2 linked regions of the Homo sapiens genome follow. The protein of the gene in region 2 interacts with the protein of the main gene of each other region in a biochemical or structural test. Each region holds a gene or a part of one and is shown on either strand. Other genes may lie near its edges.

The links.
Region 1: of the proteins of PTPRC (region 2) and TIE1, one has a biochemical effect on the other in vitro, tested with the Homo sapiens proteins (one large-scale study listed by IntAct).

Annotation. Positions count from the first base shown.
Region 1 is NC_000001.11:43,307,482-43,310,981, forward strand, and holds part of TIE1 (tyrosine-protein kinase receptor Tie-1 isoform 1 precursor), read left to right. Parts: coding exon 1-91; intron 92-314; coding exon 315-443; intron 444-1,504; coding exon 1,505-1,650; intron 1,651-1,906; coding exon 1,907-2,051; intron 2,052-3,500. UniProt on the Homo sapiens protein: Transmembrane tyrosine-protein kinase that may modulate TEK/TIE2 activity and contribute to the regulation of angiogenesis.
Region 2 is NC_000001.11:198,642,040-198,645,539, forward strand, and holds part of PTPRC (receptor-type tyrosine-protein phosphatase C isoform 1 precursor), read left to right. Parts: intron 1-3,500. UniProt on the Homo sapiens protein: Protein tyrosine-protein phosphatase required for T-cell activation through the antigen receptor. Acts as a positive regulator of T-cell coactivation upon binding to DPP4.

The DNA of each region.
Region 1 (3,500 bases), about 160 Mb from region 2:
ATATCAGGCTGCCGGGGCCTCACCTTCTGCCTCCCAGACCCCTATGGCTGCTCTTGTGGATCTGGCTGGAGAGGAAGCCAGTGCCAAGAAGGTATGCCTAACCTACCCTCATGGTCCCTGACCAAGACAGCTGGCCAGGAGCTTGACCCGGACCCTCCACTCTGCCTCTGACTTACGCAGCAAGCCCTCCTGCTCACTTGACCAGTCCTTCTATCCTCAGCCTGTTGTATAACCTGTGCCCCATCTGCGCCCTCATCTGTGCCCTCATTGCCCCCTGTCCCATGCCCCTCTAATCATACCTCCTCTATTCCCAGCTTGTGCCCCTGGTCATTTTGGGGCTGATTGCCGACTCCAGTGCCAGTGTCAGAATGGTGGCACTTGTGACCGGTTCAGTGGTTGTGTCTGCCCCTCTGGGTGGCATGGAGTGCACTGTGAGAAGTCAGGTATAAGCACTATGACCTCTGAGAGCCCCCCAAGATAAGTCGGCCTTTACCAAACACATCTCCCCGGTGGAAGAGAGTAGTCCCTCCTTTCCCTACGAGGGTCCAAGTCCTGCCCTCAGGGAGCTTAGAGTCTGATGGACAGGGAGCTCTGGCAGGGAGTCAGTCTGGTAGGGAGTCAGTCCAGCAGGGAGCCAGTCCAGCAAGGAGCTCACTGCCAGCCAGCCATAGTGGAAAGGGCAGCAGCCCAGAGAATGTGGGAGCCCAGAGGATGCCCCTGGGCAGACTGAGCAGGTCAGAGAAGGGTCTGGAAGCAGGTGTGATCTGAGATTAGATATGAAGGACAAAAGAGAGATAACTGAGGAAAGAACAAGAGCAAAGACCCAGGGATTGGGGACTCAGGTTTGGGTGCCAGGACAGTGGAGTAGGGGACCCAGGGATTGGGGACTCAGGTTTGGGTGCCAGGACAGTGGAGTAGGGGACCCAGGGATTGGGGACTCAGGTTTGGGTGCCAGGACAGTGGGGTAGGGGACCCAGGGATTGGGGACTCAGGTTTGGGTACCAGGACAGTGGAGTGGGGGACTGGGGAAATGGTCAGAAGAGGTCAAATCGTGGGGCCTTTGAATGAAGGCCAAAGAGTTTGCACTTCATATGATGGGGCAAGAGGGAATTGTTAAAAAGGAACAAGGTAGTCAGATCCGTGTTGGAGAAAGGACCCCTAGCTGCTGGCCGGGGAGCGGGAGCAGGAGACCCTCGAGGACTCTGTACCTAGGGACCAGAAATGATGAGGCCTGAGCTAGTGTGCTGGCTGGGAGGATGGTGAGGGGTCTGCTGGCAGGTATTAGACGGTATCGGGAAGTGGGGAGGTGGTTAGGAAGTAGACTTTGCAGCTGATGGGATGTGGGGCTGGGACGCTGGAGGAGTCATGCGGGCCTTTGCTGGTTTTCAGGCTGGAGGGACTGGGTAGATACCTCCACTGAGAAACAGAACACGGATGAGGGGCGCTTTGGTGGTCACGTGTCTGCCCCTGTGGGAGCTCCAGGATGAGTGTCCTTTCTCCCCAGACCGGATCCCCCAGATCCTCAACATGGCCTCAGAACTGGAGTTCAACTTAGAGACGATGCCCCGGATCAACTGTGCAGCTGCAGGGAACCCCTTCCCCGTGCGGGGCAGCATAGAGCTACGCAAGCCAGACGGCACTGTGCTCCTGGTCAGCCCCCAATCACCCCAACCCACCAGCCCCTCAGGCCGCCTGCTTCACAGCTGATCCCTAAGACCCCCTAGTCCCTCAGAACTTTCTGCAGGGCCCACCCATTGGCCTGACCATTGCTCACATGAGGTCAGGCTGATTGGTGAGGGGGCTGCCACTGGGCCTCTGTCCTGCCATCAGTCCAGACGGACACCTGGGTGCCTGCCACAGAGGTGCCCGTTCCCTGTGACCTGTCCCCTTCCCCCATCTCTTTTAGTCCACCAAGGCCATTGTGGAGCCAGAGAAGACCACAGCTGAGTTCGAGGTGCCCCGCTTGGTTCTTGCGGACAGTGGGTTCTGGGAGTGCCGTGTGTCCACATCTGGCGGCCAAGACAGCCGGCGCTTCAAGGTCAATGTGAAAGGTCAGTGATGTCCTAGGTCCACAGGGAATGGACGGTGAGCAGAGTAGGCTCTAGATGATGCTGCTCAGGCTGGAGATACTAGCAGGAAGGACAAGGACATCTAAGGTCATAGCCTAGCACCAGACAAAAAGCGGGGTTGTGGTCAACCAGAGGTCCGGGCTGGGCAGTGTCAAGGCTGGAGTACAGCTTAGACCCATCTGGAAAGGACATCCCGTGCCCCAGAAACTGGGGACACTCTCCAGCCCCGCCCTTCCTCCTGCCCAGCCATGCTGTCCCCCACCAACCGTCACACACAGACAAGTATACCTTTAACTCTGCTCTGGGATGCTGCCTCCCATCTCTGAGTCACCCCACAGACACTCAGTGCTAGCCCAGGGGAGCATATGGGGCTATGGAGCTCAGAGGGTGACCAGCTTGGCTTCCTAGAAGTGGTGCATGCCTAGAAATCTTCCAGGTAAATAAGGAGGGACCTCCCAGTGCCCAAGATTACTCAGACCAGAGCACCCCCACCTGCTCTAAGGCCTCCTTCGCCTTCTCCAGCTTCTCCAGCACCCTAAGTCTTAACCATTCACACCCCTGCCACCCCCTGACCCTGCTGTCCCTCTGCTCCTGCCACCCCATGTAAGCCCCCTCTCTCACCTTCTGCTTTCTCGTTGCCACACTCTGCCTCCCAGGTCCTCGCCATCTCCCTATCCCGTGACTATGCATGACTCTCTGCCATCAAGCCTCACCTTCCGCCTTTCTCTTCTCACTGTGCCCAGGCTTAGGAGCCAGACAACCTGGGCTTGAATCCTCTCTCCACAAATTCCTTGCCCCATCACCTTAAGGAAACTACTTAACCTCTCTTACTTTGTTTCTCTCTTTGTGAAATGGGGATAGCTAGCACTTGATGGGGTTGTTACAAAGATTAAATTTGATGATGTATTTAAGCATTTAGCACAGTGCCCGATACAGGGTGTGTGCTCAATGTATGTCGATAATTATTGTTATTATTTAAAATGTCACCTAGTCCCTAGATTTTGATAGTTCTCTGGCAGCTCTCACATATGATCTGCAGCCAGGACCCCTCTTCTGACTCCAGATCATTTGGTGGGGACTCCATGAAGTGGGGCATCTACTCTGGAAGTCTGGTTTTGAAGTTGGTGTGGAAAGTAGCTGCTGTATGATTCGGAGGCCCATTTTATATCCAGCCACTTCCTGGACATCTAATCCCCTGCGTGAGCCAAAGGCACCAAGGGCTTCTCTGCACCCAAAATGGACCTTCATCTCCCCGCAAATCAGCACTGCCCTCCTGACATGCTCATTGCTGCCTGACACTCCCTCAGCTTACAGCGCGGCATCCTTTTCCTCCCTCGCTCCCTCCCTCTTTCCTTCCTTCCTTTCCTCTCAAAAAGCCAATCTGGTAAACATTTGTAAGAGTCAAGGGAACCTGTTAAAAGCACTAATGCA
Region 2 (3,500 bases):
ATGTCCTACTAAAAACCTGCCTGTGACCTTTATCATTGCTAAAGTTTGAAATGTACTTTGTTACAGGAAAGACTACGGCTAGGGCCTATATTATCTTTTTCTCTTTTGTTCTGTGTAAGTAAGTATAGGGGCAGAGTAGTTAGCTTGAACTTAGTTCTTTCTTTGTTCTGGACTATTTGCTATCCTCTCACCAGTGACAATTAACCAGTATAGAAATATAGATGTTTCTACATTGTTCATATACTTGAACATATATTTCTTTATGTAGATACTCACACATAAACTAGTTATATATTTGTGGGTTATATATACTAGTCAATCTATCTATCTGTCTATCTATCTATCTATCTATCTATCTATCAGTTCTCCATGTTTGTCTATTTGGCGTTCCCATGAACTTCAGACCTTCGCCTGTGTTCTCTTTTCTCCATTTGGTTACGTATCATTGCCTACTATGTGTTGATCACTCTGATTCTCCATCTCTAGACTCATCCCTCAGAAACACGGAACTTACTACCTTTCCTAAATCCAGACATTAACATGCTCCCCAAGTCCTGAAATTTTGCTTTGTAATAATCTCTAATAACTTCTTGCTTTGACACCTCCATTGCCATCATCTTAATTCATGGCTTTATTATTTCTCACCTGTAAAATTGTAATAGTTTTTTTAATCAGTCTGAAGTCTCATCCTTTTTTTAATGTAATCTACAGCTTAAAAAGTAAAATAAAAAGTGAAGGGTTACTGATTTCTTCTCATTGCCTTTGGTATAAATTCTAATCTTTTTTGCCAGAGAAACTGGTTCCACTAATGATCTGGGGGCTAGGCCTGGAGCTGGGAAGGGATCTTTTTTCTTTTCTTTCTTTCTTCCTTTCTTTCTTTCTTTCTTTCTTTCTTTCTTTCTTTCTTTCTTTCTTTCTTTCTTTCTTTCTTTTTTCTTTCTTTTTCTTCTATGATTGATTAAAAGAAAACAAACAGGAGGTAGTTTTAACACCCACCTCTATACTTTCTCAAGGTGTTTAAGGTTCTGGGCAAATCCTACTTCTTCTATTATGTTCTCTTATGTCACTTTTGCCACAAAATATTTCCATTGAATTGCACACTTTTTATCACCTTTTCTTGGCATTTTTCAAGTCATTTCAATCTGCTCTTTTTTGTGATGATGATTGATGATGATGATGACATGTGAATTAGTGGATTTCTTGACATTGTAACCTACATGAAATCAGGTATAGGAGACACAAAAGGCATAAACTCATAGTTCCCATACCTAATTTTTCACCAGACACTGAATAAATCATAGATTAAAAAAATAAAACTGCATATTGTAGTGACAAAGGAAAGGAAAATTTTCAAAGAGGGAAGTCAAAAAGAGGGAGAATATGAGATAAAAAAATTAACCAGAGGCGAAGTGGGAGGATGAAGACAGCAGGACTATTTTGTCCAGATTAAATTAAGTTGATTTTGGATCTAGATGTTTACAGTCTTGCCTTTTTGTTTTTGTTTGTTTGTTTGTTTGTTTTTTCTTTGCTCCCTTTCTTACTCTCCTTATCTCACCTCTCGTCTGGAAAGAGCCTCCTGACTTCCTAAAAGTTCATAGTTTGAGAATGTTTTTCCTAAATTTTCTTTGATCTGCTCTTTGGACATTCTAGGTAATGTAATTTGGAGGGTCAATTTTATTTTTCAGATACACATACCCATAGGAGAAAAAGCAAGGAATGGGAGGGAAATACAAATGTAGCGGAGTGATAACACAAACAGATCAGGTCCAGTCATGGCAATTGCTGGTTTGAACACTGATGCTAGTGCTCTGGGATTGCTTGCAAGGGCAGATGGAATATGGTGCACCCTAGGTGTTGCATTATTTGCACGACAAAAGTTTGTAGAGAGCTGGGAATAATTTCTTTACAGACAGTGTGGTGATGAATGTCAATCTGAGTAGGTAAGGGGCAGAGATTTGTACTGAGGTTGATTCATTCTCTTGGTAAATACACAATGTTCACAAAGGCAAGGTTTCATCTTCAGACCATGTGTGTATATGTCACCTTGGTGCAGAGAGAGAAATTTTTCATCAGTGCTGACCTTTGATTTTTTTTTCTAGACATCTTATAGATTTATGTAGTTATTTACATGGGAAACAATTAGAATGGAAATTTAACATATCTTCAGTTTAAAATTAATTTCTGTCTAGTCTAAATATCTTTGTAAGTACTAGATACTCAATCCCATAGCAGTGGCCTTTTACCAAAGGCTTAGTGCTATGACTTTTGCATACATAAAGACCTCACTTTTTAAGATATGATACACCAGAAAAAAAATATGGCAAGACTTTAGCAATATGATTTGATGCCTATTTCTATATAATACCCAAATATACAGGAATAAAAATTATGGCAATCACTGGATTTTGTGTACCTGGCTCTAACCAATATTTATATTAGAAAATATCTAATTATTGTCTAAAATATTTAATCTTCATTCCTGTTTGTATGTCAGTGTGCTACTTCAATATCAGTCTGTTAAAAGAGTCTAGGAATGACTACTATAAGCAGAGAATTATATGTTCAGGAATCACAACAAAAAACAAGAACAAATAGAGAAACAAAAGCTTTCCTACTCTTTCATCTAGGACAAGAATAAATACACATAAAGTCAATATTAGTGAAGTAAACAAGCATCTTCTATATCCATTCATAGTACCTTCAATTGATTGATTTCTTAACAGACAATCAGCAAAATTATCAGTTTTTATTAGAGATTTTAGTAGAGACCGAGCTTAAACAAATATATTCTATGGTGCTTAACTCTATAGTATTTAAAGATTCAATATTTATTTCCTCTAAAAATGAGTCAAGTGTCTGAAAGGAAAAAGCCACCTAACTGAAACTTCAGTTTCTACTATACAGGGTATTTATTATAAAACTGTAATTACAATGCAATTATATTGAAGTATAAATGATCATCATTCATTTATTTAAGAATATAATCAAAATTTGCATACCTGGAAGAAAACCATCCACCCTCCAAAATAGGGATTTGCTAATGTAGGAGTAGAAGGCAAAAGTTGAGGGTAACTCAGGTAACACACTCATACGTATTAGGATATGAACAGCTGGTATAGCAAACTTGATAGAAATCACTGATAGACAAGAAGACATTCTCTGCATTTTAAATTAAAGTACAATTTGTCTGTGGTCATTCAAGAGATAGTTTAGAGAAACCTATACAAATAACAATGATGCTAAGAGACAATATCAAAATCACAATAAATATCATGGCAATACAGTGTGGCCACTATATTTTAAACACATCCACTTGATGAAAAATATAATAATTTACTGATAAAACATATTAAGCATAATAGAAAATGAGGCAGAAACCACTCCAAGCTGGGAAACATCATGACATCTGTAGTGATAAATATTTTGAAAATCTAACTCTATGAATCTTGTGATTTTTAGCTAAATCAATTTTCACCCTTGAGACCCAATTTCCTCATCTA